Regions from separate parts of the Homo sapiens genome. Here all the other regions are linked to region 4. Evidence: fine-mapped expression QTL. A gene starts in region 4. Each other region holds a variant in brackets. All regions are shown on one strand. Distances are between the middles of the regions.

The links.
Region 1: its variant is fine-mapped to the expression of F2R in sun-exposed skin (GTEx, PIP above 0.99).
Region 2: its variant is fine-mapped to the expression of F2R in sigmoid colon (GTEx, PIP above 0.99).
Region 3: its variant is fine-mapped to the expression of F2R in whole blood (TOPMed, PIP above 0.99). The same link has a PIP of 0.9 or more in blood mononuclear cells.

Annotation. Positions count from the first base shown.
Region 1 is chr5:76,673,739-76,677,741 of GRCh38, reverse strand. It overlaps IQGAP2 (IQ motif containing GTPase activating protein 2), which reads right to left. Exons shown (of 36, transcript NM_006633.5): 26 at 3,706-3,790; 27 at 3,033-3,265; 28 at 392-524. Among named protein-coding and RNA genes, the nearest start is that of NCRUPAR, 37 kb to the left of the region's middle. The variant C/T (reference allele first, on the strand shown) is at 2,310.
Region 2 is chr5:76,929,852-76,937,875 of GRCh38, reverse strand. It overlaps a transcript of S100Z not described here. Among named protein-coding and RNA genes, the nearest start is that of CRHBP, 19 kb to the left of the region's middle. The variant A/C (reference allele first, on the strand shown) is at 4,499.
Region 3 is chr5:76,737,784-76,745,479 of GRCh38, reverse strand. No RefSeq gene overlaps it. Among named protein-coding and RNA genes, the nearest start is that of F2R, 26 kb to the right of the region's middle. RefSeq lists enhancers at 3,848-3,927, 6,061-6,130, 6,231-6,560. The variant C/T (reference allele first, on the strand shown) is at 4,067.
Region 4 is chr5:76,712,231-76,720,254 of GRCh38, reverse strand. It overlaps F2R (coagulation factor II thrombin receptor), which reads right to left and starts at 4,129. Exons shown (of 2, transcript NM_001992.5): 1 at 3,860-4,129. The coding sequence starts at 3,947. It overlaps NCRUPAR (non-protein coding RNA, upstream of F2R/PAR1), which reads right to left and starts at 7,852. Exons shown (of 1, transcript NR_028375.2): 1 at 7,367-7,852. RefSeq lists enhancers at 1,279-1,779, 1,780-2,280 and a silencer at 4,074-4,323.

The DNA of each region.
Region 1 (4,003 bases), 41 kb after region 4:
TGCCCGGGCTAGTCTCAAACTTGTGGGCTTGAGTGATCCTCCTGCCTCAGTCTCCCAAAGTGTTGGGATTACAGGCATATGCCACCATTCCAGTCACAATCTGGCTTTGTAAATGGATTATGCCAAAAGTACACTTTCTTTTTTGGGGAGAAGTTTTATTAATGTCTAGGAGTCAGGGAATAATTATGTAAAAATAGAATTTTGTTGTTTGGGAGAAGGAGTTTTATTAATGTATAAGAGTCATGGAATAAATAATTGCGAGATTTTTAGGGTTAAGAATATGAGTATTAGCACATGTGTACAATAAGTCCTGTAGAGATTAAGCATTTTCAAGATAACAGATGCCTAAATCATGGGTCCATTGCTAAGATGGCTCCCCATCCCCACTTACTGAGTGTGTGCTGATGATTTCTTCAATTGAAATATAAATGACTGGTTTGCTGACTGTCACCAGGTCTGTGTATTTGTCCATATTAAACTTCTCTTCTGGCTCAGGGACATTACATGCTTCTTTGAAATATTTCCTAATAAAGGGGGGAAAAGTCTTAAGACAGACTCAAACATGTGCATTAAACAGTTTCATCAAAATAGCTAGGAAATTTTGAATGATGACATGTACTTTGTTCCCATCTCAAACCTTGAGAGGACGTGTTACAGCTTCTTCCAGGCTGGCTCCTGGCTGTCGGAGCTGCATCCATGTTTCTGGATATTGGACCCAGCTCCTCAAACAGGATTGGAGAGAGTGGCAAGGGCCTCAGGCCCTGTTTGTGACTTAGTGATATAGTGACCTATGCGTAGGTCATCTTAAAAATGTTATTTTAAAAATGGTCCCTGAAACTTAAAAAGTCAAAAATGATAATTCTTGATCTAAGAATCAAGTCTGTGTGAGGAATACAATAGAAAAAAAAGCAATTAGTCAAATTTGCTGCTTTAAACAGCACAGGCTCCTGGGCCTACATCACCCTAATCACCCTTCAGAGCTTCTGTTACCAGTTTGACAAAAATGAGATTAAGTCTACTCTTCTTCGTTGCTGCAAATATTTGCTGGCCGATGGAAAGATTGTTAAGGCTAGACACCCAAATACATAACATGTCCCAGGACTCAGACCCTAAAAAGTCTATTTTAAGCTAAAGCAAGTTTTGACAGAGATCAAGAGAAGTGAGGCATGCTGTGATCACAGTTGAATAGTTCTATGTATTTTTTGCCTAAACAATTCTTGTGCAGGTCGAATATACATTTTATTCTATAAAGTTGTAAATGTTTCATATGCCTGAAATCATTGTCGGCATCTCTCCTACAGGCACCTGGGTCTTATGTACCAGAAATGACCTCTGCTTTCCCAGCCAGAGGCTGGGGGAGGTTAAACAGCAGAGCCCTGTTGTGGGGAGCATGTTCCCATGTAACAGTCGGCTTTCCTATGCTGCTTTGGTTATAATTTTTTGTAGATTTCTGAGAAACACAAAGGATAAATATGAGTGGAAGAAAGGACAAGTTTAGAAGAGGCTCACTTCTTTGGTCTTGTTTCTTTTTAAATAAAGAATAGGTGGGAACATAAATGACTGATAGGAATAACAGCAGTTAAAAGTTCATGAGAAATGTGGGAAATGGATATTACTTTGTGTGTGTGTGTGTGTGTGTGTGTGTGTGTGTGTGTGTGTGTGTGACAGAGTCTTACCCTGTCACCTGGGCTGGAGTACAGTGGCACAAACACGGCTCACTGCAGCCTTGACCTCCAAGGCTCAAGTGATCCTCCCATCTCAGCCTCCTGAGTAGCTGGGACTACAGGTGCTTACCACTATGCCCAGATAATTTTTTAAATTTTTTGTAGAGATGAGGTCTCCCTATGTTGCCCAGCCTGGATATTACTTTGTTAGTCAGTGAGGAGAATGAAAAATTAGCTTGAAAAATCAACACTTTCTGTAGTAGGAGGATTTGGGGCAATTTTCTCACAAAAGACCACAAATTCTAAATAGAAATGAATAATCATGAACTACCTTTGTTTTCTAGTAAGTCACTCACTCCAAGGGAGACCGAGGAATGAGAAATGAGTTTCCAAGTGAGGATTAAAAGAGGCCAAACTGATGTTACACTTCTATGGCCTGTTGATTAAATGGCAGACATGAGAACAAACATGACAAGAGGAAAGTGTTTCCTCAGAGCTCCAGGAGGAGTGAATCTGACTACCAGACTCATGCCTTTCTTGTTAATGATTAGTGATATAATTTGGAAACACAAAATCAATAGAATTAAATCTTCTTACATGTGTCATTAAGAAAGGCTTGAGAATAGAACAGAACATATTCACATA[C/T]ACAATCATCAACAAATATAAAATCTGGGTTTTCCTAACCTTTCAAAATCAAGTATTCCATTTCCTACTACAGTCGTTCCTTGGTATGTTTGGGGGATTGGTTCCAGGACCCCCATACACACCAAAATTTGTGCATACTCAAGTTTGAAATTGGCCTTGTGGAACCCATGTATGTGAAAAGTCATCTGTTTGTATATGTGGGTTCTGCATCCCATGAATACTGTATTTTCTCTCTGTCTTTGGTTGAAAAAATCCATATATAAATAGACCCGAGCAGTTCAAACCTGTGTTAATCAAGGGTCAAATGTATCTGACGTAGATAAGCAAGTTCTTCCTCACCGGAAAACTTTTTAAAAATGATTCCTCTCTTCTTAAGTTGAAAGAAGCAGAAATCTGCTATTTTGATTTTTAAATTCTAGGTACTGGAAGCCTGTAGCATACAAGGAAGAACAAGTATGCCATTTTGTCAGCAGCAGAAATAATACACACAGAAAAGACTCAGTGTAATAGGAGTGCTGTGGTGGGGGTGCGATAGGATCGCCAGACAGAGGCAATCTTGCCTGCACTTCCCTCTCTCCTCTTTCCCCAGTGGCTGGTAGAAGAAATGCTTGTAACCACCTGGGGTTCCTGTCCTCCATGCCCACTCTAGCTCTGGGCACAGAGCACATATTATTCTTGCCTACCATTCTTGCACGTTTCTCCAAAACTAAGGGCCCCTCTCACCTGAATTCCTGATACGTCTCTGATAAATAATTGTTCATAGATGAGAGATGCTCATTTTCTCCTTCAAACAGCTTGTTGGAGGCTGCGTGCTGAAGAACCTTGGCCACTGATCCTAAGTTTCTCCTTTGGTCAGAATTTATCTGACCTCCAGCTGTCATGTCGATGATATCAAAGCCATCTGGAGCTACAATGGCTGGATTCATGTACCGATAGTACAGGAGGTTTCCAACAATCTGGAGTGACGCAGAAGTGCATGACCATTTTTAAGAGAGAAAACTCAAGAGTTTTAGTTTTCTTTTTTTTTTTAAAGATATATATTCTCCTACATTTCCCAAGAGAAAGCAGATCATTTTCTGATGTAAATCCTAACAAGGAGTTTAATAAAGGCAATGAATATAATCACACATTATTAATAGCATAATTTGCAAAGTTATTTTTGATGAAAAAATGCTCATTGCCCCCAAAATGCTCTAATGCAAAGAATTTCAATAATGTCTAGGATCTCCAAATTAACCTCAGCTTAATCAATTATCTTGAGAGTCATTAGAAACAGAAGACCTGCAGCTTATTATAAATAATCATACATGGGGAATAATCTTACAAAGTTATATGTTGGTAATTTTGATTCATACCCCCAGGAGAAGCTATGGTGAGATTACCCTTGAAAATCTACCTTTAATAGCTCATCTTCTGTTGCATCGGGGAATTTCTCATGGATCGAATTCTTCAGTACTTTGGCTATATACCTCAATCCATAACTACATATAAAACAGATGACAAAAGAAAATAATGGAAAAAAGGCGGAGTGAGGAAAAAACACACAGCAATTGTTCCAGTCAACTTCAGCTGAGTAGTTTTTCTAAAAATTAAACATAAGATGAGATGGTAATGGAATCACAGGACTTCCACTGATGATAATAACTGAGCTGTGTTTGCTACTGAAGTATTGCCCCTTCTTTAGAGAACAGTCA
Region 2 (8,024 bases), 220 kb before region 4:
TTCTAGAAAAGAAAAAGGGAATGAAAGAGCAGCAGAAACATAATAGGGATGAAAAGAAGAAAGGGAGAAAATCACACAGAAAGGAAGAGGTCTTAGGTTGCCTCCTTTTTTTTTTTTTTTTTTGAGACAGGGTCTTGCATTGTTGCCCAGCCTGGAGTGCAGTTGCGCAATCATGGCTTACTGCAGCATCGACCTCCTGGGCTCAAGCAACCCTCCTGTCTCAGCCTCCTGAGTAGCTGGGACCACAGATGTGTGCCACCACATCCAGCTATTTTTTTTTATGGTAGAGACAAGGTCTCACTATGTTGTCCAGGCTGATCTTAAACTCCTGGGCTGAAGCAATCTGCTCACCTCAACCTGCCAAAGTGCTGGGATTATAGGCATGAGCCACTGTGCCTGGCCTACCAACATTTTGTGAATTGTAAAATATAAAATAGGTAGGGAAGAATATATAAAATGCACATCTAAAATTTAAATAAGAATAATAAAATGTATTATTATACTATCTATATTCCTATCACTCTAGTTCTTTAAAAAAAAAATCAAACATTACCAAGGTATTACCCCAGGTGCAACCCCTTCCTCCTCATTACATAGGGCAAGAGTATTCATTCCCCTGCTTTTTTTTTTCTTTTGGTTATATCACCTACATATGTGTCCTTAAGTGATATGTTGCTTAATTTTGCAATCTTGAGGGGCAAGCATAAATTTAGCCTTTATGAAGAAGCCATTTCCAATATCTTATCTGGAAGGGTCAGAGTCTGGCTGTTGGTGTCCTGGACCTGAGTGGAAAGGTCAGGGAGGGCTCTGCAGCCGGGATTTGCTGAGCATAAGATCACTTATTCTTTCTGTTTTGCGTATGACGATCAGACTTCCAACTGTGTCTAGTGTCCATAATACAGAGAATAAGCTTCCATACTCCTGTTGGGTGAAGGATGAGGGGCTCAAGGGCTGAGGAATGACGAAGGAGAGACCGTCTCTTGAGATCTCGCAGCTTCTCAGACAACCTTTCCCAGTGCTCCTTCTTTCAGTGCCCTTGCCTCTTCCCTCTTCCCATCTCCATCCCCAGTGGCAATCCTAGGCAGGATTCTGCAGCCTAAAGCAGCTTGGTTCATTTACCTACTGCAGCCTTGAGGTTAGGCTTTTGCGAGCCTACCAAACCAGTTTCCAAAATGTTTCCAGCTTCCAAAACATTCTTGCTGTTGTTTCCTTCATGGTTGTGTGTGTGTGTGTGTGTGTGTGTGTGTGTGTGTGTGTGTAGGAACTTTAATGGAGTTTTGGGAGAGAGTAAAATTGGATGCTGATTCAATCTGCCATCCTCACTTCACAAATATTTTTTTGATTGACTTTTTTCTCTATTACACCAAAAAATTGTATGTTCATGGTTTTAAAAAATTGTTTAAAATATAAATAAAAAAGAAAAACCATAAATCAGCCTTAATCCTACCATGTAGATATAACCATGGTTAACGTTTTGATATTTATCCTTTTAGATATGTACATAATTTTTCTTATAAAAATAAGCTTATAGTGCACATACTAATTTGCAATATGATTTCTCGTTTTTATTGTTATTTTTCAGAGATGCAATATGATTTCTTCATGTCACATATCACAAACATGTTTTTATATCATTAAATATACTTTTTCCACATCATTTAAATGGGCACACAGCATTTTACTCGCATACGATATTATTTTATTTTATCAATTCCCTATTAATAAACATTTCTATTATTTCTAATAGAATAATTTACTATTGTAATCAAACTGATATACAATTTAAAAGTCATTATTTTGGCCGGGCACGGTGGCTCACGCCTGTAATCCCAGTACTTGGGGACGCCGAGGTGGGCAGATCACCTGAGATCAGGAGTTCAAGACCATCCTGGCCAACATGGTGAAACCCCATCTCTACTAAAAATACAAAAATTAGCCCGGTGTGGTGGTGTGCACCTGTATTCCCAGCTACTTGGGAGGCTGAGGCAGGAAAATTGCTTGAACCCAGGACGTGGAGGTGGCAGTGAGCCGAGATCATGCCATTGCACTTCAGCCTGGGTGACAACTGGTGACAAGAGTGAAACTCCATCGCAAAAAAAAAAAAAAGTCATTATTTTGAGTCTTTAGACTTAAAGCTAAAGGCTTAAGCCAATTAATTCTCAAAGGTGATATCCTTTGAGTCTAGATTCAAGGATAAATCAACAGACCAGGGAGAAGGCAGTACCACATCTAGTATCAGAGGCACGTTAGATCAATTACTTTTCATAAAATTTTGAACACTGTGAATCAGATATGTTCCCCAATATTCACTCATTGCCTTCCTTTCCATTTAGAGAAGAGATGGAAAGAAAAGGAATAGAAACATGAGGCCAGACTGAGCAAAGTGGTTGCTTACTTTATGATGCTAAGATGGTGGATTTTAGACTGCATTTCATAGCACACTATTCCTGTCTGTGAAGACCTCTAGGTATTCTGAGATCGAGAAAGGTCAAATTAATCTCAATGATGTGTCAAATTAGTAATCATATTAATTCCATATTGTCACCTGCTCTTTGGCAGGTTTGATAAACCATGTGTTAAATCGATTATGCAAATAATTTTAGCTAAATTAAAACATCTGTTCCACACATCACCAGATTTCAAGGTGAAAGTCTTCCTGAAGGTGAGTTTTTAGTCCCACATTAAATATGACATGTATTTTGGCTACGTTGTGCATTGGTTTGCCAGCATCACAATCACCATTTGTGTCTTTCTTTTCTTATGCCAGACATTGAGATGCTACATTTTGGCAGCATTTGACAAAAAGCTAGTTTGTTTTTCATACATAATACATATTGACATAAACCGTAAAACTTGGAATGAAAAATATGGCATGACTATAAGAGATGTATCTTTTCACTTCATGAAAGGATGACTCATGGGGCCACAAAGGGCAAATAGGGTGGATGCGTTGGAAATCCCTCCAGGAGACCCCAACAAAATATATAGGCATTTGACAACTCCTAGAGCTTATTGTCTTAGTCTGTGTTGCTATAACAAAATACCACACACTGGGTAATTTATAAACAATAGAAATTTAAATTCTCACTGTTCTGAAGTCTGGGAAGTCCAAGATCAAGACACCAGCAGATTCAGTGTCAGGTGAGGGCTGCTCTCTGCTTCCATGATGGTTCCCATTGCTGCCTCCTCTGAAGGAGAGGAACACTGTGTCCTCACATGGTGGAAGAGACAAAAGAACAAGAGAATGCTCCCTTCCACCTTCTGCCCTTTTATAAGGGTGCTAATCCCATTTATGAGGGTGGAGCCTGCATGATTTAGTCACCTCCCAAGGGCCACACCTCTTAATACTGTTGCATTGGGGATTAGGCTTCAACATGAATTTTGGAGGGGACACTATTAGTCAAACCATAGCACTTGCCTACTCATTTCTCCTTTTCCATGAGATCACTTGGCCTTGAGTTTGTAACTATGTCTTCATTTTCTCTGCCGCCATCTTTCCTTAGTTGCATTTTCAATAGAGAAGAATGAAGTAATTCACAAACTTTAGTTTTGCATAAGAATCAACTGGGGAATGTGTTAAAAGTACAAGGATTATCGTTTAGAAGGATTATCTTAGTAGGGTGGAGCCCAGAAATCTGTGTTTTTTAAGCACTCATGGTCATTCTGATTTAGTGGTCTGTGGTCTGCATTGGGAGAAACACTTGGTAGAGGATGATTAAGAGCATGGACCTTGGAGTGTGACATCCCTGGATATGAATTCTTCCTCTGTCACTAATTCTTCTGTGGTCCTGGGCAAGTTATTTAGTATAAGTCTCAGTTTCCTAGCCTATATAATGGGATACTACAACATGGATGAAACTTGAAAACACTATGCTAAATGAAATAAGCCAGAAATACATGATTCCACTTATATGCAGTATCTGTAACAGGCAAATTCATAGAGACAAAGTAGACTAGTGGCTACCAGGTGGTTGGGGGAAGAAGGAATAGGAAGTTTTTGTTTAATGGGTACAAAGTTTTTGTTTGGGATGGTGAAAAAGTTCTGGAAATGGGTGGTGGTGATTGTCCCACAGCATTGTGAATATACTTAATACTGAATTGTACACTTAAAATTTTGGTAAAATTTTGTTATGTATATCTCACCACAATCAAATGAAAGGTGTGGCCATGAAGAAATGAGAATAAATTTTCAAGTTGTATTCTTAAAAAATAGGAACAATAATTCCTGTACCCTAAGGTTGTTGTGAATATTGAGTGAGATAGTATATGAAAAGTGTTTACTTAGTACAGGGCCTGACATGTAACAAATGCTCCGGGGATGGTAGGTAGCTACCACCCAGTAACAGGCGACAGCTCCTTCTGGTATTCAGCAGCATATCACGGGCCGTTCTGAGCAGGTGAGTGGTTATGTCGACCAGGTCAGAGACTGCTCAGCTCTCTAGGGAACATTCACACTGTTTGAGGTGATTCCTCCACCCGCTGGGTCCCAATTCTAGAA[A/C]TCCTCTCGAAGAGGCCGTCTCACTCCACAGGATTCTTCCCTGTTCCACTGTACTGACAGAGGAGACACCACTGGAACAACGTTTTTCTTTCCATGCTATCCCTTGAGGGAGGCGAGAACTCCACCCAGCAACACAGTAGAGAACAGGAGATGGGAAGCCTCATCCGGGCACTCCGCCTGGCTTCTCTGAAGCTCTCAATCCCCCACCACCTGACACCCCTTCCTCTTTCTCTCTCCTTTGAATCATCTCAATTTTATCCCAAACTTGGAATACTGTGGACTCTAAAACTTTATCCTTAAACATCCTTTTGAGAATAACTCCCACAGTTGCAAATAGCGAGAATTGAGATTATGACAGTAAGTTAAATTTAATTACAAAAGTACCTCTTTGTTTTCCCTTGGATTTATTTTAGCATTGATGAAGCAAATATAATTTTCATTTTAATGAGTTTCAGCTCCCACTGGTACTAAGCCGCTTTGTTTAGGTGTTAAATATTACAGAGTCATTAAAGGCTTTTCTTACACTTTTTTAATCTTTCTTCCCAAATCCCATCAGAAAAAAATGTCTAGCTTTATTTTGTTTTTATTTTTAAAGCGTTGATGAAAAAATAAATGAATTTTCTTTGTAAAAGGTAATGACTAAGTCATTCATCTGTGGATGGGAAGGGGTCGGCCACACAGTGGGAGACATCTCCCTAACTGGAGTTTCAAAAATGGTCTTCACAGCCAGGCACGGTGGATCACACCTGTAATCCCAGCACTTTGGGAGGCCAAGGCGGGCGGATCACTTGAGGCCAAGAGTTCGAGACCAGCCTGGCCAACATGATGAAACCCCATCTCTGCTAGAAAAACAAAAATAAGCTGGGCGTGGTAACGGGTGCCTGTAATCCTTGCTACTTGGGAGGCTGAGGCAGGAGAATTGCTTGAACCTGGGAGGCTGAGATTGCAGTGAGCTGAGATCACACCACCGCACTCCAGCCTGGGCAACAGAGTGAGAGACCCTGTCTCAAAAAGAAAAAAAGTCTTCACTTCGGTCTCATCGTGAGAAGGGCATAAAAATCTTGTGCTGTTGAAAGCCTAGGAGAAAGCTCTGCAAAATGCTTATTTTCCAACTTAACCAAATTATATTACTTAGGTTGTGCCTATAAGACATCAAAATAACTTGTCAGTCCTGCGCAAAAACCAGACAAACAACAGCAACAAATCTCCTATCTTTTCACTGGGGAGAAAAAAAAGAATTTAAATGCTTGAGTTTACAACCTATGATTTTGAAAGATGCAGACACAACACAAGTGACCTTTGAAAATAACTGACATCTTATGAAAAGATATATTGGGAAGTTTTTGTTATAAATTATATATATAAATAATAATCCATGTTAGAAAAATCCGCACTAGTGGTCAATGAAAAAAGATAAAATAACATAATTTTACCATCCAGAGATAACTACCATTATGGATATTACCCCTACTATGTTCCTCTGTCTCTCCTATGTGTGTGTGAATGTGTATATATGGACATCCTGGTGTCAAATTTTACACACTGAGACTTATGTGTGCACAAAAAAAAAGAAGAATAAAAAAAACCCAAATGTTCTTTCTTTCCTGTAAGTGATCTCATCTTGTTCTTAAGATTGCAGCTTACTTCTGGGTATTAGACTCCCACAGTCAGTGGCCTCCTAATGCAACCTTAATGTTCTCAGATTCGCTATCCATCTGGTCTTTTCTATAGCACTTCTCCATCCCCACCAAGGTTCAACCACGCTACGGGGCTGAAGGTAAGGACACCTCCTATTATGGACTGAATGTCTGTGCCCCTCCCCACTAATTCACAGGCTGGAGCCCTAATCCTCCATGTGATAGTGTTTGGAGATGGGACCTTTGGAAGGTAATTAGGTTTAGATGAGGTCATGAGTGTGGGGACCTCATGATGAGATTATTGTCCTCAAATAAGAAGAGAAAGAGGAGCCAGTCATGGTGGCTGGAGACTGTAATCCCAACACTTCGGGAGGCTGAAGTGGGTTGATTGCTTGAGCTCAGGAGTTCAAGACAAGCCTGGGCAACATAGTGAAACCCTGTCTCTACAAAAAAGTTTTTTAAAAAATTAGCCAGGTGTGGTGACACACCTCCATAAGTCCCAGCTACTCGGGAGGCTGAGGCGGAAGGGTCACCTGAGCCCAGGGAAGTGGAGGTAGCAGTGAGCTGTGATTGTGCCACTGCACTCCAACCCTCGACGACCGAGTGAGACCCTGTCTCAAAAAAGAAAAAAAAAAAGGAAGAAAGAAAAGGAAAAAGAGAGACTAGAGCTCTTTCTCCCTGCTCACCCACCTACAAGCCAGCAAGAATACCTGTTCCATACCCCACTGCCCCCACTCCTTCAGGCAAAAAAGCTGTTAACTTTGCCGACCCCATTCTAGCTCTCATAGGCTGCTCTCGAATTGATTTAGGTGTCCATTTCCACAAAACCTCTGCCAAGCTGGAGTTTTAAAATATCTCCTCCAATGGACTCCTACACAATTTCCCAGATGGGTAATATTCCAGGAAATCATAGGGCCTCAAACACTCTTCTTCTCCTTGGATACCCGCTTTACCCTACACTTCAGACATAATGGTCAATTCCTCAAAAACATCAGTGCTGAGTCAAGCCCAGTGATCAATAGAACAGAGCTCAGTGGTATTAAATAGAATTATGACCTAAAAGTAAAATTAAAGCAGCCCCAGCTGACAAGCTAACAGGGAATTTTCAGAGTCGAGTGATTGCATCTTTTCTAAGGTATCGAGCTGCAGAACTTCTTGCTGAGGATTGAATAGAAGGGTTTGGTCCAATCACCTACTGCCCTAAGCAACCAAACCTTAGGCTTTGTGGTCCTGAAACCCACACTGTGAGATGTGTGCCTCCTTACCATGGAAATTAAATAAGATTGGATTTTTATGTGCTTGAGACCTAAGTTCAGTCCTGGTTCTATTGTGTTCCTAGGGACCTTGGGTGTATCATTTCTGTGCACCTGTTTTTCTTTTTGGTACAATTTGGATGTGCAATCATCATGTTGCCAGACCTGCCCACGCCTGAGCATAAGCAGGGAGCTTGCTCAGTAGAGCGATCCCAGCTATTTCTCTGGAGATGCTGTCAGAGTCTGAGAATCTCTGTCTAACACGCATCACAGATAATTCTGTAGCACAGACGAATTTAGGAAACACTGAATTTGGAAATCCCTGGCTGTTTTCTAGCTTTCAGATTTCTTTGTTTTAAAGATTTAAAGATGAAAAACTACTCTTTGTGGGAATAGAAGATATCTTCACTGCAAACACCTCCCCATGTTGTAGGAAAATCAGACCAGCAGCTGCAACAGTAGAATTTTAGGATGCTGATGCACAAGAAGTTTTTATTAACATTCTCCTCTTCACATGAAGGTCTACAAATCTCTTGTGCACATGCCTGTCTGCTTTCCTTTTACCTGTTTCTGTTAGCTCCTATTAATTGAGCCTCTTTCCTTTTGTGGAAGTGGGTTGGGATCTCAGATCAATTG
Region 3 (7,696 bases), 25 kb before region 4:
CAGCCTGGCCAATAAGGTGAAACTCTGTCTCTATTAAAAATACAAAAATTAGCCAGGCATAGTGGCGCATGCCTGTAATCCCAGCTACTTGGGAGGCTGAGGGAGGAGAATTGCTTGAGCCTGGGAGGGGCAGCTTGCAGTGAGCCAAGATTGTGCCACTGCACTACAGCCTGGGCAGCAGAGCAAGACTCCGTCTCAAAAAAAAAAAAAAAGCTTATTGTATACTCTCTTTTAGCTTTCCTACCAAAAGTAATAATGAGTTTCCAGATTGTTTTTTAAATAGATTCAACACCATACTCAAGAAGCTGTTAACTGTGGTTGTCTTCCAGGAGATGACAGAAAGGAAAGGGTGATTTTTCACTGTATATCCTTTTGTTCTTTTGAAATTTGAACCATATGAGTGTTACCTATTAAAAAAAATACAATAAAAATCCTACATGAATACAGGGCATTGACTTGTATTTCTAGAGGAGAGGAGAGACAAGGCAGAGTAAGTGATAGAGACAATTGTTTGTAAGGTTAAATCTTTCAGTGGATATAGTCAGATATTTAGGGTCAATATCTAGGGGGTTATAGCTAAAGAATACTAATATTCCGATAACTTTACTGAGAGACATGATAATATACAGGTCAACTCTGAAAAACTTTAGCATTTTAACAAATAAACTGTGGTTTACTAGGTTAGAGATTTCATGTAAAAACTAGATCCATGGTTCTCAAAGTTTGGTTTGCATAAGAATCACCCCCAGCTCTTGTTAAAAATGCAGATGATCCAGGTCCTATCCCAAACATTCTGGTTTTAGGTCCGGGATGGAGACCAAAAACCTGCATTATAACAAGCAGCTCAAAAGACTTTTGTGGACTCCATTTCCAGAAGCACTGAATGTAGTCACTGCTGGGTGGTTCAATCGACTACTGAAGCTGCCTTCATTATACAGAAGCAACAAGCCTATGGATACCAGCTTCAGTCTCACCATGTAAGAGACCATTTAATAATTGTAAGAAAATGAATAAGTGAAATTAAGGATCCAACAACATGGGTCAAAGAATGCAGAAATTAAATAAAGCTCAAGTATGTTTTAAAAAGAGCTTATGGGATAATTAATCAGATTTTTAAAATACTGAATAATAGAATGTGGGTTACACACATTCATTAATTTCAAGAATAAGAGGACTAACATAACTATGCAATAAAATCAGTCAAAGTTTTTGTTTTGTTTTGCAAAAATAATATTTGCTGCTTGATGAGGAAATATGAATTCCAGAAGAAAACAAATGAATAGCCCTTTTGGCACAAGTATAAAGACTATCAGAGTAAAAAGTCGTGCTCTGGTTATGATGACAGAATGCTGTACTGAATGTTCTGGTAGCTGCTGGGGACAAATAGAAACATTTCTGGCTTCAGAGTATAGCTAATGACTTTTTTTTTTTTTTTTCTTTTTTTTTTTTTTGAGACAGAGTCTCGCTCTGTTGCCCAGGCTGGGCTCACTGCAACCTCCACCTCCAGGGTTCAAGCGATTTTCATGCCTCAGCCTCCTAAGTAGCTGGGATTACAGGTGTCAGATACTGCACCTGGCCATGGCTAAAGATATTTTTATGTTTTTGAGAATTTCAGAGTTCCACAAGATATTTTGGGAGAATCTTGAAGATGTCAACTATATGTAGAATCATATGATTTCCTAACACCATTATTTCCTGCTTGAATAATATATTGAGGCACAAAATACTAATTGTGGCTAGGAGATGGTCAGAAAGATTTGTTTGTTTTTTCAGATTATTTTACTTTTGTTTTAATGTGGGTTGCTTTTTTGCTAGAGAGGCAGTACATACTCAGGAAAGAGAGAAGTAGAAAATACTTTAAAGGAAAAAAAATGACCCAATTACCAAAACGCAAGTTTAAACATCTTGGTATATTTCTCATTAGTCTTTGCCTTGACTTAGATCTATTTTTCCCCATCTTGTTGGTTTTGTACTGCTTGTATATCATTGCATCTTATTTTTTAAAAAATTAAACATTATAAGCACTGCTCTGTGTCGTTACATACACTTAAAACGTCTCATTGTTAAAGGGTATAATAGTCTCTGGAGAAGTCCTTTAAAATTACACATCTAGAGGAATTTTGTCTTCTGCTAACATGCAAATAAGGCTGCTATTAACAACCAGAAGCCTATTACTTTTTTTGATGTTATTTGTAATTATTTCTTGATAGATTCCCAGAAGTCATACAACTGGGTCAAAGGTTATGAACATGTAAGGATGATGACATTTTGTCAAATTGCTTTCCTAAAGTGTGTCCACCGACATTATCTTACCCTTTCTGGTATTTATATTATTTTCCTTATTTCCTCCATTCCTTCTGTAATACTTATTAGGGAGCTGTTTTAGCCATCATAGAAAAAGATCATTGTTAATTGGACACGAGCCGGTGTTATCTTGTTTTAAATTGCAGCTATTGGATTATCGCTGAGATGTAACATTTTTTCCCACGTTGGCTAACAAATTGTAGTTTTTCTTTCATCATTTAGTTTTTTCAATCAACTTGTAAGAGGGCTTCTATAATGACGAATTTACTCCAAGTTTACTGAATGTGCTGTAAATGTGTTCCCAGAGTTGATTAACAAAATCTTTGGTTTTCCCCAGGCACAGTGGAATCATGGATCCTCTGATGATGATCCCTGGGCTGACTCATTTGCCTTTGGGTTTGCAAAACTTCTCATTCCAGCTCCATCAAGACTGAAGCTCCTGAATGCTAAGTAGCACCCTAGTGCTTCCCTGAGGTCACCATTTTTCAGCCAGACCCAGAGACAGGAAAAATATCCACAGTTGCTTTCTGGTAACCAGGCGCTGCCGCTATCTGCCGGGCACTATCTTTAAAAAATGGGAGTTGCCACTTTAAACCCCCAGTGTCTTCTGAAATGGTTTTATGTATAAGATTAGAGCCATTTAAGCTATCTTTTTCCCTAGAAAAGAACCAAAGAAGGGAGAAAGAGGAGAGGAAGCATACAGCAAGATAGATATCACCTACAACAAATTTTGATTAAGAACATATGCTGCCACTACATTAAAAATTGCCCCAATTTTCTCAGAATAAAAAAAAATTGTCTCAGAAAATGATTTTAAGAATATGAGAATTGATTTTCTGGATCCCTGGACCTGCAACCTAGCCAAATTCTGCCTCGGGGCTATCTCTGAGAGCACTGCTATTCAAAGCATAGTCCAAAAGGAGCAACTTTAACTTTACCTGGGAAGTTGTTACACAGGCAGACCCAGCCTCGGACCAGTTGCAGCAGACTCTGGTAATTTGTATGCAGGTTAAAGTTTGAGAAGCAGACAGATCACAGCTCACTGTAACTTTGAACTCCTAGGCTCAAAGGATCCTCCTGTCTCAGCCTCCTGAGTAGCTGGGACTACAGGCGTGTGCCACCACACCCAGCTAATTCTTACATTTGTTTTAGCAGGGTCTTGCTATGTTGCTCAGGCTGGTCTCAAACTCTCAAACTCCTGGCATCAAGCAATCCTCCTGTCTTCACCTCCCAAAGTGCTGGGATTACAGATGTGAGCCACTGCACCTGGCCAAGAAACACTATTTTCTTTTCTTTTTTAAAAAACTTTTACTTTAGGTTCAGGGGTACATGTGCAGGTTTGTTATATAAGTAAATTGTGTGTCTTGGGGGTTTGGTGTACAGATTATTTCATCACCCTGGTAGTAAGCATAGTACTCGATAGGTGGTTTTTCAGTCCTCTCCCTCTCATCCTCCACCCTCAAGTAGGCCCTGGTATCTGTTGTTCTCCTCTTTGTGTCCATGTGTACTCAATGTTTAGTTTCACTTATAAGTGAGAACATGTGGTATTTGGTTTTCTGTTTCTGCATTAGTTGGCTTAGGATAATGGCCTCCAGCTCTATCCATGTTGCTGCAAAGAACGTGATCTTGTTCTTTTTTACGGCTGCATCGTATTCCATGGGGTATATGTACCACATTTTCTTTATCCAGTCTATCATTGGTGGGCATTTAGGTTGATTCCATAGCTTTGCTATTGTGAATAGTGCTGCAGTGAACACCTGTG[C/T]GCAGATGTCTTTATGGTAGAATGATTTCTATTCCTTTGGGTATATACCCAATAATGGGACTGCTGGGTTGAATGATAATTCTGTTTTAAATTATTTGAGAAATCACCACACTGCTTTCCACAATGGCTGAACTAATACTTTACATTCCCACCAGCAGTATATAAGCTAAGAAGCACTTTTCAAAAACAGTGGTATTGTTGATCTAAAAGGAAGAAGCTGAGTCAAAATTAATATAAGTAGAGAGTTTATTTGGGCCAAGCTTGAGGACTGCAACCCAGTGTATATTGAAGTGTATATTCAAGTTGTCCTGAATATACAATCTGATTAGCAGCAGTTGCATGTGAATGTTTATAAAGGAAAAGAGGCAGTTCCTAAGTTGTTTATCAAAATTTACATTAAAATAACATAAGCTGTTGATTGGATACACATTGTTCTTTGTATCACAGATTCCAGGAACATGAAGATAACAGGGAATGTAGCTAGTCAGGAACAAAATGCCTTTTTTTTTTTTGAGATGGAGTCTCTCTCCGTTGCCCAGGCTGGAGTGGCGCCATCTTGACTCACTGCAACCTCTACCTTCTGGCCTCCTGGGTTCAAACAATTCTCCTGCCTCAGCCCCCCGAGTAGCTGGGATTTCATGAGCATGCTGCCATGCCTGGCTAATTTTTGTATTTTTAGGAGTGTAGGGGTTCCACCATGTTGACCAGTCTGGTCTCAAACTCCTGACCTCAAGGGATCCTCTCGCCTCGGCCTCCCAAAGTGTTGGGATGACAGGCATGAGCTACCACACCACCAGGAACAAAATGACTTTAAATAATTGCCCACAGGCATGGGGGGTGGTGGGTAGGGGGAGGGTATGTGCCGGGGGTGTGACTGAAGTCCTCTACTCCCGTCTCTCTGGGCCTAATAAATTTTGCACACCTCACATAGCTCAGACTGCTGAGGGATTTTTCTTTTCTTAGTATCAACCCTGGTTTACACATCAGAATCTTCTGAGGAGCTTGAAAACAATATCAATGTCCAGGCCTCGCCCCCAGAGATTGGCACTGGAATTGTTTAGAAGCTCTCCAGTGATTCTATGCGCAACCAGAGTTGAGAACTGATTTAGTTTCTTTTCTTTTCTTTCTTTCTTTTCTTTTTTTTTTTTTTTTGAGACAGAGTCTCGTTCTGTTGCCCAGGCTGGAGTGCAGTGGTGCCATCTCGGCTCAGTGCAGCGTCTGCCTCCCGGGTTCCAGCAATTCTCCTGCCTCAGCCACCCGGGTAGCTGGATTACAGGCACGTGCCACCATGTCTGACTAATTTTTGTATTTTTAGTAGAGACAGGGTTTCACCATGTTGGCCAGCCTGGTCTCGAACTGCTGACCTCAGGTGATCCGCCCGCCTTGGCTTCCCAAAAAGCTAGGATTACAGGCATGAGCCACCAGGCCTGGCCAACTGATTTAGTTTCTAAAACTTGTTACAAGGCAGAGCTGATAAAATTCTAAATCTGAGGTCTTCAAATTTTGTGCTTCCTAACTAAACATTAAGTATTAGGATTAAATCCCAAAGCCAGTTAGCTTCTGGAGGATGGGAATATATTATTTGTCTTGTTTTTTTTAAAATATGTGTCAGCTAGTTTCAAGAGCAACTAGATATCCCAGGATAGGAAACAAAACAACAAAAATAGATATCAAATGATTATGGTTTTGCTCACGAATGCATCTCAGTATTGGACAGCCCACCCTTCGTGGTGTTTTCACTTCCTTGGATGGGTCGCATAGCAGCACACCAAAATGACCTGCAGATGTAGTCATTAAGATAGGCAAAACAGCCAGACTGGCCCTGCCACCATGCAGGCTACTATAGATGCAGCTTTCTTTTCTTTTTTTTTTTTTTGAGATGGAGTTTCGCTCTTGTCATCCAGGCTGGATGGCACAATCTCGGCTCACTGCAACCTCTGCCTCCTGGGTTCAAGCAATTCTCCTGCCTCAGCCTCCTGAGTAGCTGGGATTACAGGTGTGTGCCACCACATCTGGCTAATTTTTGTATTTTTAGTAGAGACAGGGTTTCACATGTTGGCCAGGCTGGTCTCAAACTCCCGACCTCAGGTGATCCACCCGCCTCGGCCTCACTAAAGTGCTGGGATTACAGCGGTGAGCCACCGTGCCCTGGCCAGATGCAGCTTTCAAAGCTCATCTCCTTACTGCTTATGAGTCATTTCCTGAAGTGATAAACACACAGCCTGCTGGGTTGAAACTGTACATGCTGTGTTATCTGAATTCTGAGATGCTACTGAATTTGACCTCTGGTTTTCCGTGTGTTTCCATAAGACTAGCATGCAATCAACAGTCCCCATGACAACAAACTTGGCGCTTGAGTTTCACTTTACAGGAATGCCACCATGGGTAGAATCTGCTGCTGTTCTGAATTGTCTCTTGGTCTTCTGGTCTGAAACTTTGCTCAGCAAGCACCTCTCTCTTTCCTTTACACAGCAGGTGGCTGAAAATCAGACCTCACACAGAGCTTCCTGTTCTGTGGACCACACCATACCTGATGACGTGAATCAGTATCTTTTCTTTTCTTTTTGTGACAGGGTCTCACTCTGTCACCCAGGCTGAAGTGTAGTGGCACCATCTTGGCTCATTGCAACCTCCGCCTCCCAGGCTCAAGCCATCCTCCCACCTTAGCCTCCCAAGTAGCTGGAACTACAGGCATGAGCCATCACGCTCGGCTAATTTTTGTATTTTTCGTAGAGACGGGGTTTTGCCATTTTGCCTAGGCTGGTCTCGAACTCCTGGGCTCAAACCATTCATCCGCCTTAGCCTTCCAAAGTGCTGGGATAATAGGCGTGAGCCACTGAGCCTGGATGTTGAATCAGTTTCTTGCTCCAAGACTTGGAACCCCTCAGCTCTGAAACAGCCAGAAACCCAGAGTGGTGCCTGCAGCTCTAAGCCAACTCTTTACCCCTGTTTGCTTTTATGCTTTTATAATAATTACCAGTTTATCTGTTTTCTTCAAGTCAATAAAGTTGGGACATCTTGGATAAGGGCAGTGGTTTTCAAACTTCTTTTGCTCAGAACACCTTAATACACTTAAAATTATTGAGGACCAGCAAAGAGCCTTTGTTTATGTGGGTTGCATCCATTGGTGTGCTGGAGTCAACTTGTACCTGCTCACAAGAATTCAATATTCAGGAAATTTGTCAAGCCAACTGTTAAACAGTTGGGAGCTTGAAACTGGAAAAGAAGGGAGTATTCACACCATCAAAATTGGCAAATGCTAGTTTGCCAGATCAGGCTTTTTTTCTTTTTGTGGAGATCCTGCTTAGCAGCACATCACTGACTTTTTTTCTTTTTCATTTTTTGAGACAGCCTTGCTCTGCTCTGTCGTCCAGGCTGGAGTGCAGTGATGCCATCTTGACTCACTGTAACCCTCGCCTCCCAGGCTCAAGTGATTCTCGTGCCTCAGCCTCCCAAGTAGCTGGGATTACAGATGTGCACCACCACACCCAGCTAAGTTTTTTATTTTTAGTAGAGATGGGGTTTACCTATGTTGCCCAGGCTGGTCTCGAACTCCTGGCCTCGTGATCCGCCTGGCTTGGCCTCCCAAAGTGTTGGTATTACAGGTGTGAGCTACTGCACCCTGCTGCC
Region 4 (8,024 bases):
TATGTTGCCTAGGCTGGTCTCAAGCGATCATCTGGCCTAGGGTTCCCAAAGTGCTGGGATTACAGGTGTGAGCCACTGCACCCAGACCCTGAGAACCTGCTATGCTGGTATGTTCTATAAAAATAAAGGCAAAGCCACTAAAAATTATTAGATATAGATAGATAGATAGATAGTAGGGCAGAAAATTACTTGCTGACTCATAAGAAATCTGACTTTCAGGCTTTATAGAGCTTTCTGGTCTGCTTACGGTAGAACCACTGCTCAGTTTTCTGTCTTTCTGTTTAGGTTTACTAGCAATATCTCTTGTAACATCTGATTAATTAGTGTATTCATGAGCAGGGATCTTTTCAGAGCCTGCCTTATCATCTGTTAGCGAAAGTAAATGAGAGAATACCACAGTCCGTGCATAAATGCTCACTAAATACCTCCCTGTGCTGGGCCTGAGCTACCAAGGCGATAGGGCACAGACTTTGCTTCTATATTTTGATGAATTATCAAAAATAGGTAAATCCATACTGTACTAGGGAGCACAGTGGGGTTACTTCTCTACTGTAAGAGGTGCTGGGAGTCTAGATGGCTTCCTTTCTATAGGGGGTGTTAGAGAAAGCCTGCACTTCGGAGAGACAGGCCTGTGGTCAACTCCCAATTCCACCTCTTTTTTTTTTTGAGAGAGAGTCTCACTCTGTTGCTCAGACTGGAGTGCAGTGGCACAATCTCAGTTCCCTGCAACCTCTGCCTTCCAGGTTCAGGCAATTCTGGTGCCTCAGCCTCCCAAGTAGCTGTGACTACAGGTGTGCACCACCATACCCAGCTAATTTTGTATTTTTAGTAGAGACAGGGTTTCACCATGTTGGTCAGGCTGGTCTCAAACTCCTGGCCTCAAGTGATCCCCCTGCTTTGGCCTCCCAAAGTGCTGGGATTACAGGCATGAGCCACCGCACCCAGTCCCAATTCCACCTCTTTCTCAACTTGTGACTTAACCATTCTGGGTCTCTGTTTTATAACCAGTAAAATGAGGATGACATCTACTCAAAGGGCTGTTGTGAGAAATAAATAAGATAGTATTGTAACGTCCCTAAGAAGGATGTCAGCTGTAGTCAGTACTCCACAGAGGGTAGCTGTTTTTAATTAAACATGAACGTGGCGGGTATGGGATATGGGGAGGGCATTCTGGCCAGAGGGAGTGGCATGCGGACAGAAGCCAGAGAAAGCATAGCTCCTTGAAGGGAGGATCTAGAGGATGGGGCTGGGTGAACTGGAGGGTGAGTAATAGGAGATGGCTGGAGAGGGGCTGGGGACCCTCCTGCAAGGGGAGGAGCACTTCATTCCATGCCAGAGAATTGGGCTTGACTCTGTGAGTAGGAGGGTAGCAAGTGGAATTGCCCACCAAGTTCTCTCTGTCATAGTCACCACCAGCTATTCTTGAACACTTTAACCCTCTAGAGCCCCATAAAATTTATAAACATCACCTTTTACTCTTGGATGTTGGCCCTTTTAATGATCACATATCATCTCACTTAAATTGTCTAGACGAATGTAAACTGGTTGATGAATTTACACATTTCTCAACAACTATCTGCTGAGTGAACATTTGTTTTAGTCACCATGGGGATAAATAAAACTTTATAATCTTAGTTGGGAGAATGAGACACACACACAAAGTGACAAGGCAGGAAATGCCAAAATGAGTGGGAACAAAAAGTCGGGAAGTGCTGGAGGAAGGCTCAGCTTGGTGGTCAGGGCCAGCCCTGGGAGGGCTTCACCGCCCCTCTTGGCACACAGAGCTGGTAATCCTGGACAATAAACTCTATCACAGCGGTGGCGGTTCAAGGATGGGAGGCACTGTTGGATGCCTCAGAGTCCCAGCACCACTACCTTATGACAGACAATGCTTAGAATTGTCAATGCATGGTGGTAATAGAAAGTAAACCTATCTTGGGTTGATTTTATTAGTGATTTTAAATTTTCTAAAGACAAAGCCCCACTTATTCCTAATTGCTTGCACCCAGGGTGGGTGGACTGCCCCTTCCCTGCCCCACCCGCCACCACTTGCTTAGCCGCTGTCTCTGGGTCTTAGTTGCAGAATCAGCAAAAGGGGATAAATACCCACCTTAACAAGGTGTTTTGACAAGGTGAAATGAGACAATCCAAGTGAAAATTCCTTCTGGCCCAGGGCTTGACATGGAATATGGCACTTAGCAAGCGCTCCTTTTCCTCTATCATACTCCTTTCTTCTTTCCCTCCCAAAGTGGTTCCAGAATCCAGTGTTGATAAACTAGCCAAGTTCATCCACCTGCCTTTCTGTCTACACCAGCACTGTCCATATTAACATGCACCACTCCTGCCATGAGGATGTAAGAAGCTTGGCAGAAACCAGTACGCTTTGACTTCACTCCCTAATGAGGCTACACACCTTGCTGGGAGGCCACTGTGAGAAAGGGTGCAGCATTTCTATAAGCTCTGTTCTCCACCCCATGATCCAAATCTCAAACAAAACACTGGATTCTCAAGAGCGTGTCCTCAAACTACATTGTGCAAATTACATAATGGTATGTGAAATCATATCTCATCGCAAACAATTTTTCAGGAGTTCTCGGTGTTCTCTCAAACACTTTCGGCAACAATGCTCACTTATCTGCAGGCAGGCTAGTTACTGCTAAACACTGGGCCCCAGTCTGGAGCTCTTAGTTTTCCCAAAAGCATCTCAAAACTCACCCTGAACAAAGACAGAGAGGCGAGAACATGCTATGTCTTTGTCACCTCTTAATCTTGATGTGTCTACACTTTTTTTTGAGTGTGGGAGCAATATAGAGTGCACATTCTTTTAGCGATAACAAGAAAACCCGCTAGAACTTCTTTCAGCGTAAAAAAAATGGCTCAAAGCTTATAAAATACTATTGTTATTAGGAAATTCAAAAACACTTTTCTCACTTTCTAATTAGCGCCTTTACAGGCTAAAAACAACTCATCTGTGCTGCTCTTGGGGAAAGGGATACAGAAAATATTTGACCAAATAAATTAATCAAATTTATTTATTTGGTCAAGTGGCCAGATACTTAAAAATAGACTACTAGTGGGGAAAATATTCTAGGGGAGCAACCTTCTTGCAGTGGATCAGAAATCTCGTTAAGAAATACTGGGATCCCACAGTGTTCGAGGGAGCCCGGTCCTGGGGAGGGATCTCTCTCTTCAACTCACTTAGAAGGAATGGGTTCTAGGTAACAACAAAATCCTCTCCATGTCCCCTCCCCCGCCACCACGCGGAGCCTCTGCTATTGTCACCATATATCTCGCACCCTGCGCACCTCCTGGACACAAGGCCGGGCCGGGGGCTGCTGGTACTGATTCTCTGCTAAACATGCCAAGGGACTGCCTGGGCTTTTCTCTACATCACTTTTCTCGCCTGTAAAATGTGCAAGAAAAAAACTTCCAACAAAGCAAAACTTCAGCGGCAGCGGTTCGCCACTTTATATTTTAAAGATCGAAACGTTTATTGGTGGAGCAACGTGAGAGCTTTTCTTTTTGGGGGTGGTCCTGGGAGAAACACAATGACAAGTGCAACGCAGGACTGCAGGCTCCCCCAGGGGGCTTCCGCTCCATCCTCCTCCATATCCAACACCCCGTGGCAGGCGGGCTGCACCCTCCAAGATCGAGTCCAAAGGGGCATCGGCTGGGCCCGCGAAGGGGGTGGCACGCCCCACCTAAACGTGACTGGAAAAAACTCCAGATCTCAGCCCAAATGCCAGTTTGGCTTTCGGAGGAAACTGAGGCAGGGGTGAGGAGAAGGCGCAACAGTGACCCCCGCAGTCTCCCCTCGGCGTCCCTCCGCCCGCGCACCCCATTCCCGTGCATCTCTCACCTGGCCTGCGGGCCCGGGTGCGGGCAGACAACAGCGGGCCGCACAGACTGAAGCAGGCGGCCACCAGCAGCAGCCGCCGCGGCCCCATTGTCCCGGGCTCTGCGCGGCGCTGCTCCGGGAGGCTGCCCCGCCTCGGGCTGCTCCGCTTCACCCTCTCTCCTGACTTCTGCGGGTCGGGGAGCCGGTCTTCGCGGCAGGCAGAGCGCAGGGTGCCCACGGGTAAGATCAGGGTCCAAGCGACCCTCGGCGAGCGCTGTGTCTGGGGCGGTTAGCGGGGCGGGGCGGGACTGGGGCGCGCGGTCGCGCGGGCGCGAGCGAGGAAGGGCGCCCTCCGGCGTGCAGTGAGAGTCTCTGCGCTGGAGCCGCTCGGCGCCCCCTCCCCGCGGTCCCTCAGCCGCCGCTCGCAAGCCCCTCTGGCTCTGTGCGCCCCGCCCCGCCCCGCCCTGCCCTACTGGGGGGCCCTGGCCGCCGGCCACTGCCGGGCCTAGAAGTCCAAATGAGAAGTTTTTTCCTCTGGGCACCGTTGATTCGCGAAGCTGTCAGTGACTCACACTGGCGGGGTCCTTGGAATGGGGCCGCACGGCTCGCAGGCTGCTTCCCGCGGCCGTCTCGACCCTCCTGGGATGTGGAGACGTCGACAGTGGACGCCCCGGCCAGGATGCGTCCACGCCCTGCAGCCCCGCAGCCCTGGCGTGGCCTCCCGTCCTCCCTCCCTCCGTGTGGGACACCGGCAAAGTTCAGTTTTCGCTAAAAGTCTAAAAGGGACTTCTGCTTTTGTAACGTGGGGATCACGGATTTAAAAGTTTATGATGTAGTGACAGGGTTGCCCCTAAATGAGAAAGGGCCCTTGAGTCTGGACAGAATTCTTGAACTTTTATACGTCTCTCTTTATTTCGCGAAGTTAGGCGTTTCATACGCCGGGCACTCGTTTCCCCCACACGCAGACTGCGAGTGGAATAGGAAGAGCGGCTTCTCCCGCTTCCCCCCCGCGCGGCCTCGCGGAGCTCTTCCCTTTCCCGCGCCGCCCGCCGGGGTCACCTGCGCATCTGGGAGGAGGGCGCGCGTCTGCCGGTGAGGCCGGCGTTCTAGGGCCGCGGGCGCCCAGGAGAGAAATGGCCTGGTAACTTTCCAAGTGTCCTTCACACGTTCTTGAACGATATTACAGTTTGTTTTGTTTTTGAGGCAGGGTCTTGCCCTGTCGCCCAGGCTGGAGTGCAGTGGCGCCAACACGGCTCACTGCAGCCTCGATCTCCCTGGCTCAGGCCACCCTTTCGCCCCAGCCTCCGGATTACCTGGGACCACAGAAAGGCGCGCGCCACCATGTCCGGCTAATTTCACTGCTGGCCTCAAGCGATCCTCCTGCCTCAGCCTCCTAAAGTGCGGGGATTACAGGCGTGAATCACCGCGCCAGGCCTGATATTAAAGGAGTTTGGCTAAATTCAAGGCACAGGGCGGGGACACTCGCTTGGCAGTCTGCTAAGGGCCCCCAGGGGCGTCGCGGCTGGGGGTGGGCAGGAGGAGCCTGCAGCTTAAGTTGCTTTGCCACTGGCTCTGGTGCGTGCGCCTTTCAGACTCCAACAGGAAATGGGTCCCCAAATAGCTGTTTCTAGGAAAGCTCAGCCGCAGCCCCTTCTCCTCTTAACCCAGCGCACTGATGTGCGGGCATATTCGGAGTTCTGTGGTTGATAAGCTGCAGCTGAGAGCCGGTGGTCAGTTTTCTAAGCCTTTTTTAAAAGTGAATTTCGCACGAAGAGTATCATTCCCCCACTAGAGCCCGGACACTTACATCCGTGGAGAAAGTACGATCAGAGGCGATTTCGTTCTTCCCTGTATTCTCCCATCATCCTCAAAGGACAGTACCTTGTTGTACACAGAAGTTGATCACTAAATTGCGGAAGTACCCAGTTAAATAAAGCTTTTTAAAATCTATCCCCGTTCAGTTATCCTCTGGAAACATACCCAAGAGTAAATGTGAACAGTTAAAATTACATAGTTCTTCATTCACTATTAAACTATTTTTCATTATTCCTAAGACGTCATTGATTTTACAATTTATCATTTTAACCCATTACCACAAGCCAGAAAAAAATGTGACATACCAATGATTGTAAGAAACACTCCAATTTCAGGGTTATGAAGAAAAGGCATTTTAGAATCAATGAAACACAGTGGAAAATATAAACACATATGACAAAATTTCTGATAGTTGAAGGATATGAAATGAAAAATAAATTACCTTCTGCCTCCCCTCCCCTAGTTGCCATCTGACCACTAAGTTTCCCCTCCTTCCTTCCTTCCTTCCTTCCTTCCTTCCTTCCTTCCTTCCTCCCTCCCTCTCTTCCTTCCTTCCTTCCTCTCTTCCTTCCTTCCTCTCTCTCTCTCTCTGTCTTTCTTATTTTCTTTCTTTCTTTTTTTTCCTGAGGCGGAGTTTCACTCTTGTTGCCCAGGCTGGAGTGCAATGGCGCGGACTCGGCTCACAGCAACCTCCGTCTCCTGGGTTCAAGCGATTCTCCTGCCTCAGCCTCCCGAGTACTTGGGATTACAGGCGCCTACCACCGCGCCTGGCTAATTTTTTGTATTTTTAGTAGAGACTGGGTTTCACCATATTGGCCAGGTTGGCCTCAAACTCCTGAACTCAGGTGATCCACCCGCCTTAGCCTCCCAAAGTGCTGGGATTACAGGCATGAGCCACCGCATCCAGCTACCTGACCACTAAGTTTCTGTTCACCATTCAAAAAATCATATCCACATACAAATTGCATATATGTATATCCTTAAAATAAGAATGGAATAATACCACCACATTTTAAAATTTTATCTGTGTCATTGGTGGAAAATGTTATTTTTAACCATTTTACAAAACGATAAAGCTTAAAAGGATGCTTTGGGGTCTTAGTTGTTAGAACAAAATGTACCTCTAGTGACAAAAAGACGTACAATGAAGGCTGGGTGCAGTGGCTCACACCTGTAATCCCAGCACTTTGAGAAACTGAGGCGGTCAAATCACTTGAGGTCAGGAGTTAGAGACCAGCCTGGCCAGCATAGAGAAACTCCGTCTCTACTAAAAATACAAAAATTAGCCGGGCTTGGTGGTGTGCACCTGTAATCCCAGTTACTTGGGAGGCTGACGCAGGAGAATCACTTGAACCTGGGAGGCAGAGTTTGCTGTGAGCCAAAATTGCACCACTGCACTCCAGTCTGGGCAACAGAGCAAGACTCTGTCTCAAAAAAACAAAAACAAAAGCAAAAAAAAAAAAAAAAACAAAAATAATGAAATGCTTAAATGCTTTGTGCATATTGACTAAAGGATTCCTTCTAGGAATATTTCTGCCAGTTGTATTTTTTGAGGCTTGTTTGGTACATGTTTATCTAATTCTTTTTAAATAGTATACTATTCCCTTGTATACATATAATAAATTTTAGTCTTCTAAAACTATTTTATCTGTAGTGTTGTCCCCATTTATATTCCTAACATAGCTAATTTTTTGCTTTTTTCCCTTTATCTGACCAGAGGTCAGAAATGACTATTTTCTAATGCCCGTCTTTTTGCTCCGTTACTTTTATTTTTATTTATAAACACAGATTTTTAATTCATTCTTTTCCTCTACTTTCTTTGAGTTTACTCTTTAGCATAATTTTTTTTTTTTTTTTTTTTGAGACGGAGTCTCGCTGTATCGCCCAGGCTGGAGTGCAGTGGCGCGATCTCGGCTCACTGCAACCTCCGCCTCCTGGGTTTACGCCATTCTACTGCCTCAGCCTCCTGAGTAGCTGGGACTACAGGCGCCTGCCACCACGCCCGGCTAATTTTTCTGTATTTTTAGTAGAGACGGGGTTTCACCGTGTTAGCCAGGTTGGTCTCGATCTCCTGACCTCATGATCCGCCCGCCATGGCCTCCCGAAGTGCTGGGATTACAGGCGTGAGCCACCGCGCCCGGCCTCTTTAGTATAATTTTTTGAACTGATTATTTTTTACCTCTTCTCCTTCAAAAGACCACATCAGCTACATTTTGCAAGTTTTGATATGTGCATATATAAAATTCAGGTCTAAATATTTTGTCAATTTCATTCAATCTTCAACCATAAATTCTTGGATATTTTGACTGGCTTTTTGTGACTGATTTCTAATTTTATGGTCTGTTAGTGATGTTGTTTTTTGTTTTGTCCT